4 linked regions of the Homo sapiens genome follow. The protein of the gene in region 4 interacts with the protein of the main gene of each other region in a pairwise test. Each region holds a gene or a part of one and is shown on either strand. Other genes may lie near its edges.

Region 1 (3,500 bases), on a different chromosome or scaffold from region 4:
CCCAGGCTGGAGTGCAACGGTACGATCTCTGCTCACTGCAACCTCCACCTCCCAGGTTCAAGTGATTCTTCTGCCTCAGCCTCCCGAGTAGCTGGGATTACAGGTTCGTGCCATCACGCCCGGCTAATTTTCTGTATTTTTAGTAGAGACAGCGTTTTGCCCTGTTGCCCAGGCTGGTCTCGAACACCTGACCTGAAGTGATCCACCTGCCTCAGCCTCCCAAAGTGCTGGGATTATAGGTGTGAGCCACCACACCCAGCTTCCTTTTCTAATATTGGAAATGCTTCTATTTTGTTGTCTGTGCATCTCTAACTCACATATAAAAGAATGCTGGTTGTAAATTGCACAAGAAAGAGAATGGCTTTAGAGAAGCAATAGAAATTTTCCTTGCTACTAACATATCTCCCTTGGAGGGCTCCAGGGGGTACATGCTGTCAGGTGAGTGGCCGTTCACTCATCTGCTTCTTTTTTTGAGACGTCTCGCTCTGTAGCCCAGGCTGGAGTGCAGTGATGCTACCTCCACTCGCTGCAAGCTCCGCCTCCCGGGTTCACTCCATTCTCCTGCCTCAGCCTCCTGAGTAGCTGGGACTACAGGTGCCCGCCGCCGTGCCTGGCTAATTTTTTGTATTTTTAGTAGAGACGAGGTTTCACCATGTTAGCCAGGATGGTCTCCATCTCCTGACCTCATGATCCGCCGCCTCGGCCTCCCAAAGTGCTGGGATTACAGGCGTGAGCCACCGAGCCCAGCCCATTCATCTGCTTCTTATGAGCCCCTGCTCAGCTCTCTCACCTGGTAGTGCACAAAGCGCATGTCTCGGGAGTAGAGTGCTGCGGTCCACTGGCAGCTGTGGCCCAGGGGGATGGCTCTGGCCAGCTGCTCCAGCGTCCTCTGGTGGTGGGGGTAGAACTTGTGGGCCAAGGTCAGATGCAGCTGTTTGGTGCAAGGCTTCACGGAGCAGTCTGTGAAATCAGGGAAACACAGAGGGTGCCAGGACACCGTTACCTAAATGTCTCCTTCCTCCGACCTCCATGCTTCCTCCACAAGGCAAGGGCTCTCAGAACTCAGAGCTCATTTGGCCCGCTCAGAACTCACATCATAAAGGAGATGGCTGGATCCCTGTAGATTTTTCCAGGAAGTAGGAAAGAGGACGATATGGAGATGTGGGTTCAGGGTCTCGGGGGCCTATCGGTTTGCAGGCTAGCTGCCCGAATGCACGATTCAGATGCACAGAGTAAACGGCTCCTCCATTCCCCGGGGTGTGCACGTTACCCAGTGGCCTGGACTTGCAGGCCCGAGCTCCAGTTCAACGGCTTTTTGTTTAATCGTAGAGTTTCAAGAAGAAAACTCTTTAGGCAACAAAACTATAAAACACACAGTGTCTTTAAGGTTCACCTTGTTTTGGTGAAGCAGGAAGTCCTGGGAGTGGTTGAGCCTCAGGTCTTTTTGGGTGTCCTCTGCCCCTGTGGCCCTAGCCCTCCCTGGTCCTGCCAGGGGCTCTCAGGTCAGTCTGAGCAGAGCAGCTGGCATCACCAAAGCAGCCAGGATCTGATTTCAGTTGAGCCACAAAGTATTTTATGTCCTAGGGAGGCGGTCTGTGTCTTGACGGGAACAACACAAACTTTGGTGTCAGATAGACCTAGTTTTAGGCTGCACTTTGCCCCCTTTTGCAGGGTGACCTTGACTGAGCCTCTGGGCCTGCCCAATTTCTGCTTCAGCAGCATCTGCTGGAGGACGGCAGCGCCTGCTCGCCAAGGCTGCAGTGGGAAATCAGCCTCCTAACCTAAAGTTTCCTGCTAGAGACGCCGTGTCGGTGCACAGACGTACCCTGCCCCCACTCCACGGCAGGGCACTTACAAACAGGATCTGCTCACCCCCTAAAAAAGGTCAAGGTTGATGCAAGCCTTTCCCTGGAGCCCCGAAGTTGGGGCTCACTGCTGTCTCCCACGTGAGAGGTGAGCCTTTAGAGGCAAATGGGAAGCTCCCACGGTCTCTAGGAAAGCTGGGGCACTGAGGCTGCACAGCCCAGAGCAGCATGAGTGTGTAGGTGGTGGGGAGCAGCATGAGTGTGTAGGTGGTGGGGAAATTCCTTTCCTGACTTTTGTTTTTAGCAGTCGGGGAGGACCGCCTTGCCATGCGAGTGAGTGTGGCCTGGGAAAGACCCACTGCAGGTTGCTGACGTCAGAGTGAGTCACACCGACTTCTGAACGGGTCCTTGCGTTTCCTTCTCTCTGCGGACCTGTGCCTATGGGCACGTTTCACTGGGGAGGACCAACGCGGGCAAGGGGGCCTCATGCATTTGCCCCAAGAGGGACCTCGGCCACTTCAGAGCAGTGACTGGTCACTCATCACTGAGAGAGTCCCCTCCACCCCCTCGGTGTCAGGCTGAGAGCATGGGCCATGGAAGGGCAGGACACAGCCTGCTTAGGGTCGGGGCGTAGATGTGAGGTCAACGCTGGCTCCCACAGGAAGTGGGGCTGCCCAGCATGAACCCAGGCAGCATGGAGCAGGACAGAGGTGGGTTCAGGTCCCTGCTCCGCCAGCCTGGTTAGGGGACTAGATTGGTTTCAAACAACAGAAATGTATTGCCTCCCATTTCTGGAGACTAGAGGTTCAAAATCAAGGTGTTGGCAGGGCTGTGCTCTCCCCGAAAGCTCCTGGGAAGGGTCCTTCCTGGCTTCTTCCAGTTTCCGGTGGCCCCAGGCGTCCCTTGGCTTGTGGCTACATCACTCCAGTCTCTGCCTCAGTCGGCACATGGCTTCTCTGTGTCTCTGTGCGGCCTCTACCCTTACGGGAACCCACCCTAATGCAGTGTGACCTCCTCCCAACCAATCGCATCTGCACAGGCCCTATTCCCAAGTGAGGTCACATTCCCAAGTTCCTGGTGGACAAACATTTTTAGGGGACACCGCTCTACACACCACAGGACCTTGGGCAGGCCCTTCACCCTTTGCAGCCTCAGTCTTCCTGTTTTTAAGATGCTGCCAATGAGGTTCACTGGGGGAGGGCCTGGGTGTGAAAGAGCCATCATTTGATAAAGGATACTAATCCACAAAGACCGGGGGCGACTTTCTAATTATTCAGCAGATTCGATCTCCAGACTCACAAGCTGCCATCCAAGTGGAAGCCCAGGATTCAGGGATGGATTTACAGGCCAGGATCTGTGCTTCATACATGTCTGAGCACAGACAGACACGCTCCCAGAGAGAGAAAGTGGGGAGCCCTCCCACCAAGGCACTGCGGCCTCGTCAGATTTTAGAGTCGGCAAATCTCAGCAATACTGAGTGCCTTCTGTGTCCCGGGAACTATGGCAGGATGGGCCACAGACTCAGGCAACATTGTTCTTGAAGAGTGAGAGCCCTCATTGTTTTGTAGAGAAAGAAAAAGAGACAGAGAGAGTGGACATGACTTGATTAAGGTCATGCCACTCATCAGGGACACAGAAAAAAATCACATCTTCTGACGTCAAGTCCACAATCCTTTCCACTAAACCCCAATGGTA
Region 2 (3,052 bases), about 13 Mb from region 4:
CCTTCCCAGACTGGATTTGGGTGAATAAATATACGTAATTTAATGAAGCCAACAGCCCCATTCTACCCCCCCCAAGAATTGCAGTGGTTCTGAAGAGGGACTGAGGAGGGGAGAGCTGTGGAGGGGAGGACTGTGTCACTTTGGTCAAAGTCTGTATCCAAAGGCTGTATGACCCAGAGGAGCTTCTGGAGTGTGAATGGGGCCCTAACCTTTAACAGAATGCAAGCTGCAGTCACATGTGCTGAAAAGGAAAGAAAAGCATTTTTGCCCTTCAGAGAAGCTCTGTTATTGGTTATGGGGAACCAAATTATACCATCTATTTGCTGATTGATTGCTCCCCATTTCTGACGTTTAGTTCTTTAAAGAAAGCTTGTCCATGCAGCAGTGATTCTGCAGCACAGCCAACCCAGCATCAGGAGACGTGACCAGGCACATCTGAGGCCCCACCCTCAAAAGATTCCAAGTGCAATCCCACAAACTGAAGACTTTTAAAGCCTAGATCAATTATTAAATGTTTGGCACTTTATTAAATTAATTAAATAAGCTCCAAAATTAATTACATACAAATCAAAGGAATAAGAAACAATAAATAGTTTATTCAGCAAACACCTCTCTGCAGCAGCCGGCAGCTCTGAGGCCGAGGCTGGCGTCCTGTGGCAGAGGGCCTGTGGATTGCCATGCTCGCTCCCAGGGGTGGCTCAACAGGGACACAGGTCTACTCCTTCCACATCGGGTTTCCGGAACAACAACTGAACTCTCATTCATTACCATCCCATTCATTACCATTTTTTTTTACATACACGAAACACACCGCAATGTATAGACTAATAAGCCAAGAGCTTTATTGATGCAGCAGGCACTTTACAATGAGCCCAAGAGTGTCCACCTTCTCTGGGAAGACAGGATGTCTGTACAAACTCTTGGGTTTTTTTCCACTTCAAAAACACAAGCTCTCCCGTTTACCACAGCCCTTGGATCTGCACCTGCCCAAACCATCCCTCCCCCAGTGCACACAGGTGCATCTGACCAACACCAGCCGCCACGCTGGTAGACCGTCAAAATGTCAGTTCTGCAGTACTCGGAGACAAAGGCATAGACTATCAGATCCTAAACAGGATTTAGGAAACAGACGATTTTCCCCTCCACCTTGAAAATAAAATACATTTCAGCAGATACATGTCCTGAAATAGTTTACTTGGGAGTTCCTAGGAAGATGGTCCATTGTCAATCCCTTCTTCACCAGCCTGGGCATCCAGAATTCTTCTCAAGGTAACATGAGTCTTTTTATTTTTTTTAAACAGTCTTTCTTGCTGTAAGAACTCTTATAATGGAGCCTAGTCCTCCTACTGCTAAGGCCTGTGGGGGCAGGAAAAGAAAACGTGTCAGATGAGACCTGGCTGGCCAAGGGGAGCCTGGCTTGCCAGAGACAGGGGGGACATTCCCTGACCTAGATCCCGTCACAGATCCTCGAAAGAGGATTCCTGAGATAGAGCACATTCTAGGGAAGGAGCCCTGTCCTGGAGCCGTGGGGTCCCGAGAGCTGTTGGCTCTTGGGCAGAACTGGCTTGAGAACACTGTCACCAGCACACAAAGCAGAGCCCTCGAGCTTCCCTTTTGAGATGGGGTCTCACTCTGTTGCCCAGATCACAGCTCACTGCACAGCCTTGATGTCCTGGGTTGAAGCCATCCTCCTGAGTAGCTGGGACCACAGGTGTGCACCACCAGGCCCGGCTAATTTATTTTTTTTGAGACGGAGTTTCGCTCTTGTCACCCAGGCTGGAGTGCAATGGCACGATCTCGGCTCACTGCAACCCTGCCTCCCCAGTTCAAGCGCTTCTCCTGCCTCAGCCTCCCGAGCAGCTGGGATTACAGGCGCCCGCCACCACCCCCGGCTAATTTTTGTATTTTTAGTAGAGACGGGGTTTCACCATGTTGCCCAGGCTGGTCTTGAGCTCCTGACCTCAGGTCATCCGCCTGCCTCCGTCTCCCAAAATGCTGGGATTACAGGCGTGAGCCCACCGCACCCAGCCTAGTTTATTTTTTTGTAGAGATGGGTTCTCACTACATTGCCTGGGCTGTTCTTGAACTCCTGGGCTCCAGCAATCCTCCTGCCTCAGCCTCCCAAAGTGCTGAGTTTACAGATGCACACAAGCCCACTGACTGCCGCCCGCTGAGGTGACTGGCAGGCACCAAGCTGCCTTAAAGGGACGAGAGGTCCTGGCCTCCCCATCATACAGAGGACTTGTTTACTTCCTTGAGCCCAGGAGAGGGGAGGCCAAGGAGGTGCAGCACACCCGCCAGCAGACCTAAGGCCACAACCACAGCCCAGCACCCACACCACCTTAAGGACTGGCCCACTGTAAAACCCCTCTCTTCCAACTCAACACTGAGCCTCTGAGGAAGGCAGGCAGGTTAGTAACTCCTGGTCTGCTTTAATGGTGGGCGTGCTTACTGCGGCACTAGGGGTGTGCAGGGGAGGGTGTGGGAGGCAGCCCCAGTGGTACAGGCACGACACAGGCTTGCCAAAGGCCTTGCTCTCACACGGACCCAAGCGAAGGGCAGACACAGCTCTTTCTGCTTCACCTGGACGAAGGCCATATTAAGTGAGGTCAAGGTTTCTGCCCACTGCTCACTCTGGCCTGCTAAGGCTGAGGCCAGGGCAGGAAGCCCTTAGAGCTGGCTGGAGGACTCTATTTCTAAGAACCCCCAACAGCTGCCTCCACCACTGCAAGTATCATGAAGCCCCAACCAACCAGCAGGCCCCCTTCCTACCTAGACTCCCTGACCACCTTACTATGCCATGTTATCTGCCCACATGTCCTGTACCAAGGGCACCCTGTCTTGCCTGACATAAATCGGCAGCTAAAAAGCAAAAAAGTAACTGCAATTACCACAGACAGCAGGTCCCTACCAGGAGCTTCCTTGGGAGAGGGAAGTGATGACATGTCCCAGGTTGGGGCTCGTCCTCTGACCCCACACGCCTATCAGACCGTCCTACGTTTGTTCTGGAAAATCTGGCCTGCTGATCGAACCCCAAGGCAAGCCAGGTGGC
Region 3 (3,500 bases), on a different chromosome or scaffold from region 4:
CCTCTGGCCTATAGCACACCCTCTACTTCCCTTATCACAGCATGCATCATGCCTGTTTTCTTACTGGCAACAACACTAGGGTGAGCTTCCAAGTATGTATGTGCTTGGCACTTACGCATCTTCAGTACTGAGTGATCATATAAGTGATTGGATGGTCACCAGGAGCAAAGTTCATCTATTCCTGACTTTTTAGGTGGAATAACCAGTTTCTCTAACTTTCCCTTACCCAAGAACCAGGTAGCCAAAGGTAGGGAGGGTCCTAGGTTTAATTAGAGACCTTTCTTCACAGGCCTTGCATAACATTTTAAATTTAAGACATTATATGGATACATGAGTACTCCATAACTTCCTACCAACTAGATTAGGGGTTTCCTGGGCAAACCTCCCAATCGGTACTCTAATAGACTAGTTAGCAGAGCTTACAACCTTATGCTACTCTGAGAATTAGGTGTCACAGTCATCCCCATGGTTCAGATGGAGAACTGGGGCTCAGAGATATCACATAACTTGCCCAAGGTAACAGAAGCAGATGGTGAGGAAACTAGAACTCAAACTGAGTTCAGGCAGTATGTTTCTAGAACCTCGATCTGGCCTGTAAGAATATAGTCAATGAATTTTACTCAATGAATGTTGAAAGAACGAAGTCAAGAGCCGGACATGGTGGCACATGCCTATCGCGGGAGGATCGCTTGAGCCTAGGAATTTGAGACCAACCTGGGCAACATAGCTAGACCTACCTTGACTCTAAAAAAATTAAAATGAACAAAAAAGAAAGAATGAAGTCAGTAAACTGTACTAGAGATCAGGATGACCTTTGGGGGTATATTAGAAAATGGAAATTTGAACAACCCAAAGTGTATTCACATTTGATTCTGGATTACCTTAGAGGGGGAATATAAACATATTCAAAATAAGAACCATTAGTTCTTATAGGGCACCCCAAGGGGAGACTTCTTAATCTAATCTATTCCTGCTTCATGAGGAGGGGACTACAGGCTCAACTCAGACATCCCAGCCAGGGACACACAGTGAGTGGCCCGTGGGCTAGAACACACAGCCAGCATGCGGGCCAGAGAAGCCTGTCGTGTTTTTTTTATTTATTTTTAATTTTTTTTGAGACAGAGTTTGTTGCCCAGGCTGGAGTGCAGTGCTGTGATCTCAGCTCACTGCAACCTCCACCTCCTGGGTACAAGTGATTCTCCTGCCTCAGCCTCCCCAGTAGCTGCGATTACAGGCACCCACCACCACGCCCAGCCAATTTTTTTTTTTTTTTGAGCAGGTGTCTCGCTCTGTAGCCCAGGCTGGAGTGCAGTGGAGCGATCTCGGCTCACTGCAGCCTCTGCCTCCCACATTCAAGCGATTCTCCTGTCTCAGCCTCCCGAGTAGGTAGGATGACAGGTGCCCGCCACCACACCCTACAGGCGCCCACCACCACGTCCGGCTAATTTTTGTATTTTTAGTAGACATGGGGTTTCACCATATTGGCCAGGCTGGTCTCGAACTCCTGACCTTGTGATTCGCCCGCCTCGGCCTCCCAAAGTGCTGGGATTACAGGTGTGAGCCACTGCGCCCGGCCTTGTATTTTTAGTAGAGACAGGGTTTCACCATGTTGGCCAGGCTAGGCTCGAACTCCTGACCTCAGGTGATCCACCAGCCTCGGCCTCTCAAAGTGCTGGGATTACAGGCTTGAGCCACCCGCGCCTGGCCTGCAGTGTCTTTAGGTGGCTTACCTCCCGCAGCTCCAGCCTCTGGGCCACGGCCTCGAGGCTTTCCTGGCCAGTGCTCTCCACGGACAGGGTGAACTCCACAAACTCGTTATTAAGCAGTTGGATCCGGGCAACCAGGCAACTCTTGCTGGACACCGTGTAGCGCCGGGTGCGTTTCAGTTTCAACCCAAATGGCAGTGGCATCTTCTTCTTTCTTCAAGAATGGAGGAGCAAAGAGGGAAAAGCTACCCCCACCAACCCAGCGCTGGTGACGCCAGGAGAAAGCGATCCTCTCCGGATGGGACGAACACTGTCCGGCCTCCAGCTGCTCACCCAGCAGCCGCTGCCGCCATTAAAAAGCAACGGAGTCTCCAATGGCCCGAGGAAGGGAGCATTGACGCCAGCGCTGGGGAAAGAGGAACGCCGTTAGTTAAGCAAACGTAACGCTGGGCTTTGCTTGTATAAAGAAAAGCCAGTCAAGCTGTGGCCAAAGAACAAGCCGTCCCTCTCCACTGGAAAAAAGGCACTAACAGGACCCGGAAGGCAGGGTGGAATTTTATCTCAGAGTTGTGCTAGGCTCAGGGTCAGACTCCACCCTTCACTGTATCCTACAAATAGGGATAGCAAACTGGGCCATCCTCAGGATTAAATGAGATAATAGCCAGCACTACTATAATCCCAAATTTTGTAGTTAGTAATTGTGATCCTCTTCCTATTTTGGATAAGGTGTTGTTTTTTCATAGGTAACTCTTTCAGGTTGTAATACTCCAAATGTCAGAGTTCTTTAGTCCTTAAGTGAGAAAAGTGCCAAATGGCCCCAAAAGAGCTAGGTTTCAGTCCCAATCCCTTTAGAAAATTAACCCTGAAGGCAAATGGGAGGAATAATCCCCACTAAGAAAGGCAGGTGTGTGATTCAAACCCGGTGAGGTGCCTAACAAGCGCTTGTGGAAGTATTTACGTCATCAAATTGATTTACTGATAAACATCATAAAAGACCCTACAAATGCTCGTTATCCATTTACCACTAGAAGAGTGGCAGTTCTGAAAATCCAGACCCCGGCCCCTCTCCAGGGTGGGGACGCCCAAACAGGCCTTCACCTAAGCGGAGCCGCGGCCCAGAAGGGGAGGCGGGCGAGGTCTTCCACGCCATCCTGAGTTAATGAGCGGCCGGAGGCAACAAACCCAAGAAGCCCACGGGGCCTTGGAGCACTCAGGCCCCGGCTTCTCCCGCGTCCTCCCCTTGGGAAGAGCACGCGGCGTTGCCAGGCCAACCAGTAGACTCGGAGGCCCCGGAACCCTCTTTCTGCAGCCGCGTTTCTGGACGGACGCGCTCTAAAAGGACCGGTCCCTCGGCTCCCGAAGGGAACATTTAAAGGGACCAGCGCGTGCCCTACTGGCGGTGGAGAGGTTGGGCGGGCCCCATAGGATGCCCGCTTTGGAGCCACAGGACCTCAAAATACGCTCCTTACAACGTGTTTTATAGAGCGAAGTCTCGCTATGCCACCCAGGCTGGAGTGCAGTGGCGCCATCGTAGCTCACCGCAGCCTCGAACACCTGGGCTCAAGCGATCCTCCCGCCTCAACCTCCCGAGTAGCTGGGACCACAGGTGCGCGCCACCAAGCCGGGCTCTAACAGTTTTTAACCAGACCTGTTGATGGTTTCTGGGGCGAGCACTAGCTGGGGATTTTTATATCAGCTGGATTAGTTTTTTCCCCCTAAACGAGTCTACAAAATCCCGGACATTTCCAGGGTCCTGAGACGGTTCCCTACCTTCCTTCTGCGCAGAGATTGCCT
Region 4 (3,500 bases):
AGTCTCTGGGCCTACCAGGGGGGCTGCTTCTGAACAGACCCACGTGCCTATGCTGTGCCAGGCCTGCCAGGGAGGCCAGGGCTGACTGCTCTTCCCCTCCCATGGCTGGTGCCCAGCCCCCCCCCCCACACACACACAGTCAGGGGACCTGGCCCAGGGCTGCAGCTGATGAGCTCTCAGTGGGGTGTGGGGTGTGGCAGGTTCTCCTGCTCCTATCCACTCTCCTCAGCCTGTGTCTGCCCTCCCTCAAACCCCAAATAGAAGCCTACTTCTGTTTCATACGTGCCATAGGTCATCACAGTTTCAGGGTCCCCGCAGGGACCTGCTCCTCTCTGTCTTGACATACATTTGGCTTTTCTGTTCTGGGATTCCTTCCAGGGAAGTTCCCTTTGCTGCATTGGTCCCCACACCAAAGAAGTGTCCTGCCCGGGGGAGTCCACCCCACACCCAGCCTCAGGCTGCCTGGTCTCAGCAACCAGTCCTTGTGGCATGGGCTGCAGTGACATCAGCTTCCGTTGCCCATTCAGGGCTGGCCAGCAGTGTAGCCAGCATCCTGCTGGTGGCTGGGTTACCTGTGAGGGACCTATTGGGTCAGTGACAAGAAGGGAACTGTAGGGACCGGGTGGGGGCTGAGGGGAGGCCCGGGGTTGAGCTCACTGTGTCTTCTCTCTCACGCCATCCCTTCTGGCCCTGGCTTCAGCATCTCGTAAGTACCTGTATGACTTGGTGCCTAAGGGCACAGCTGTTGTCCCTGGGGAGACCCTCCCACCCCAAATAGGTTTGGGCAGGCCAGGGACCTGGGTCTTGAGGGAGTGCCGCTCTCTGCGGGCCTGGCTCCCAGCGGGCACCGAGGTCGCAGCAGGGCCTGCTGGGAGCTGGGCCTCGACAGGTGAGGCAGGCTGGGACTCCTCTGCCGGGCCCCGTGCCCCAGACGCCCTGCTGGGCCCTCTGCTCGCACCACTGTCCCGACGTCTGTGTCCCTCCTGCCTCCGGCCAAGGGCAGTGCTGACTCGCGGTGGTTTCCCAGGGTGTTCAGGGGCTACGCGGAGAGGAAGCGCCGGAAACGGGAGAATGATTCCGCGTCTGTAATCCAGAGGTAGGGCCTGCCAGCCACTCGCCACCAGGGTCCATCTCTGGTCTGTGCTGGCCTGGCCTGGGCCCCCTCGGCCCTGGCAGACCTGATGGGGGAAGGGTGGTGGCGACCACTGGCCTGGCCCTGCTCTGGGGACGTGGCAGGCAGGAGAGGCCATGTGGCCCGGGCTGCAGGAAAGCATCTCACCCTCAGTCCTGCACTCCGAGGGCACGTGTCTCTGTCTGGGCTGGGGCCAGCAGCAAGGCCCCCCTCCCCCACTCCAATCACACAGATGTGTCTGGGAAGCTTTTTTGCCCGTTTTGGATGTTGGGCCTTGGCAGGGTCCAAAGTTTGGTGGAGGAGAGGACCTGCCCCTGAGGTGGCTCAAGGACACAGAGCAGGAGAGGGGGCTCCTGCAGGCCCCCAGCCCGCCATGGGGTGGTGCAGACAGGAGCCCCGCTCTGCTGCAGCGCAGGCAGGCTGGATCCTCTGCCACATGGGCGTGGAGGCTCAGGGCGTAAGTCCCGGGCGAGGACGGAAGGTCAGAGCCTGGGAATGCAGCTCGGGAGGAGACTTGATCCAGAGCGCCAGGCACTGCACCTTTGTTCTGGAGTTGAAGGGGAGCCCTGGAAGGCTGTCGCGGGAAGAGCACTGGGTGGGATTTGCCTTTGGGTGGGAGGTGGTGCCAGGAGCCAGGGAGAGCACTGGCTTCCCACACCGAAGGGGTGAGAGTAGAGCCATGACCCGACGGGGGCTAGGTGGGCAGGGGCTGCCGTCACCCTCTCACGGCCCTCTTCAGCCCCTGGCTTCCTCCCCCAGGAACTTCCGCAAACACCTGCGCATGGTCGGCAGCCGGAGGGTGAAGGCCCAGAGTAAGACCCCGTGCGGCGGGGGTGGGGGGGCGGCGTTGCGCTTGGCTGGTTGGGGCTTTGCTTGCTGCTAGCTGCGATAAGAACGACCCCCGCCCCAACCCCAATCGGGCCCTGCCTCAGGCTCCTCCCCTTCCAGCCACTTCCCCAGCCCGGCCCAGGCTCCTCCCCTCCCAGCCACGCCCCCAGCCCGGCCCAGGCTCCTCCCCTCCCAGCCACGCCCCCAGCCCGGCCCAGGCTCCTCCCCTCCCAGCCACGCCCCCAGCCCGGCCCAGGCTCCTCCCCTCCCAGCCACGCCCCCAGCCCGGCCCAGGCTCCTCCCCTCCCAGCCACGCCCCCAGCCCGGCCCAGGCTCCTCCCTTCCCAGACTCCGCCTCTGGCCCTGCCCCAGTGTTCTCAGATCCTGCCCCTGAACCAACCGAGCCTCTGGTCCGTGTCTGCTTCATGTGCCTTAGACCCCACCCACATTAGCTTCCTCCTCTGCCCAGGGCCCCTGTGGTCCCCTCGCCTGGGGTCTGAGACTCCCGAGGCCCCGCCCCACCCGCTCGCTAATGCGGGTTTTGCTCTCTGCAGCGTTCGCTGAGCGGCGCGAGCGGAGCTTCAGCCGGTCCTGGAGCGACCCCACCCCCATGAAAGCCGACACTTCCCACGACTCCCGAGACAGTAGGTGCCCCGCACAGGCCCGCCCACCTTCCCCAGAGCCTCCCCTAGACCCCAGACCCCTGCTGGGGGTCCCCTGCCAGGGCCGCTGGGCTGCGCTTTTGCACTCCTGAATCTTGGTTTACCTGTTTGTGAGATGGGGACGCCCTCAGCATCTCCGATCGCAAAGGCGGGGCTAACAACGGCCGCGGCAGTGCTGGCCGGGGGCGCCTGTAGGGCCGTGCCCACCGCCACTCGCAAGAGGCCCTCAGGGGCAGGGGGCTGCGGTGCCCGCCCCCACTCCCTCCCAGGCGCCCGGCGGACTTGGCTGGAGCTGATGCCTGCACGCGCCTTCCACCGGCCTCGCACCAGGGTCTCCCTTCCCACATCAGGCCGCTGCCCAGTGGTGTCCACAGGCCTGTCCTGCCGGGCTGGCGGCGACCTCTGTATGGTCCTCCCACTTGCTTGGAGGACCCTCCGGGATGGGGCTTTCGGGCCCTGTGGGCCTTGGGGCCATGGCCAGGATAGGAGGTGCTGCCGGGCCTGCTGTCCTGGTGACCCTCTTGCTTCCCAGGCAGTGACCTGCAGAGCTCCCACTGCACGCTGGACGAGGCCTTCGAGGACCTGGACTGGGACACTGAGAAGGGCCTGGAGGCTGTGGCCTGCGACACCGAAGGCTTCGTGCCACCAAAGGTCATGGTGAGGCCCAGCCCGGGCAGTGCTCCTCTACACCCCGAGCAGGACTCCGCCCCAACCCGAGTCCAGCCAGCTCTGCCTGGGACCACGCAGCCTTCTCCAGCTGCCTGGGGGAGGGTGTCTCACAGGGCTATACCCTTGGGCTGCCTGGCAGCCAGAAGGTAGCCTCATGGGGGCTCCCACAGCCCCTTGGCTTTTGGATGGGCCTGGGGCCCCTGAGCAGC

Evidence for each region. The genes of interacting proteins can lie anywhere in the genome.
Region 1: the proteins of NSMF (region 4) and UBASH3A interact in binary tests that used the Homo sapiens proteins (3 or more experiments, as listed by UniProt).
Region 2: the proteins of NSMF (region 4) and ARPC5L interact in binary tests that used the Homo sapiens proteins (3 or more experiments, as listed by UniProt).
Region 3: the proteins of NSMF (region 4) and PTPN21 interact in binary tests that used the Homo sapiens proteins (3 or more experiments, as listed by UniProt).

Annotation. Positions count from the first base shown.
Region 1 is NC_000021.9:42,413,902-42,417,401, reverse strand, and holds part of UBASH3A (ubiquitin-associated and SH3 domain-containing protein A), read right to left. Parts: exon of another isoform or gene 1,094-3,500; intron 961-1,093; coding exon 791-960; intron 1-790. UniProt on the Homo sapiens protein: Interferes with CBL-mediated down-regulation and degradation of receptor-type tyrosine kinases. Promotes accumulation of activated target receptors, such as T-cell receptors, EGFR and PDGFRB, on the cell surface.
Region 2 is NC_000009.12:124,875,182-124,878,233, reverse strand, and holds the end of ARPC5L (actin-related protein 2/3 complex subunit 5-like protein), read right to left. Parts: intron 1,357-3,052; coding exon 1,294-1,356; 3' UTR 501-1,293; downstream 1-500. UniProt on the Homo sapiens protein: May function as component of the Arp2/3 complex which is involved in regulation of actin polymerization and together with an activating nucleation-promoting factor (NPF) mediates the formation of branched actin networks.
Region 3 is NC_000014.9:88,548,508-88,552,007, forward strand, and holds part of PTPN21 (tyrosine-protein phosphatase non-receptor type 21), read right to left. Parts: intron 3,046-3,500; exon of another isoform or gene 2,729-3,045; intron 2,113-2,728; 5' UTR 1,911-2,112; coding exon 1,731-1,910; intron 1-1,730.
Region 4 is NC_000009.12:137,452,835-137,456,334, reverse strand, and holds part of NSMF (NMDA receptor synaptonuclear signaling and neuronal migration factor), read left to right. Parts: intron 1-700; coding exon 701-706; intron 707-1,027; coding exon 1,028-1,096; intron 1,097-1,105; exon of another isoform or gene 1,106-1,248; coding exon of another isoform or gene 1,249-1,589; intron 1,590-1,891; coding exon 1,892-1,944; intron 1,945-2,514; coding exon 2,515-2,604; intron 2,605-3,154; coding exon 3,155-3,279; intron 3,280-3,500. UniProt on the Homo sapiens protein: Couples NMDA-sensitive glutamate receptor signaling to the nucleus and triggers long-lasting changes in the cytoarchitecture of dendrites and spine synapse processes. Part of the cAMP response element-binding protein (CREB) shut-off signaling pathway.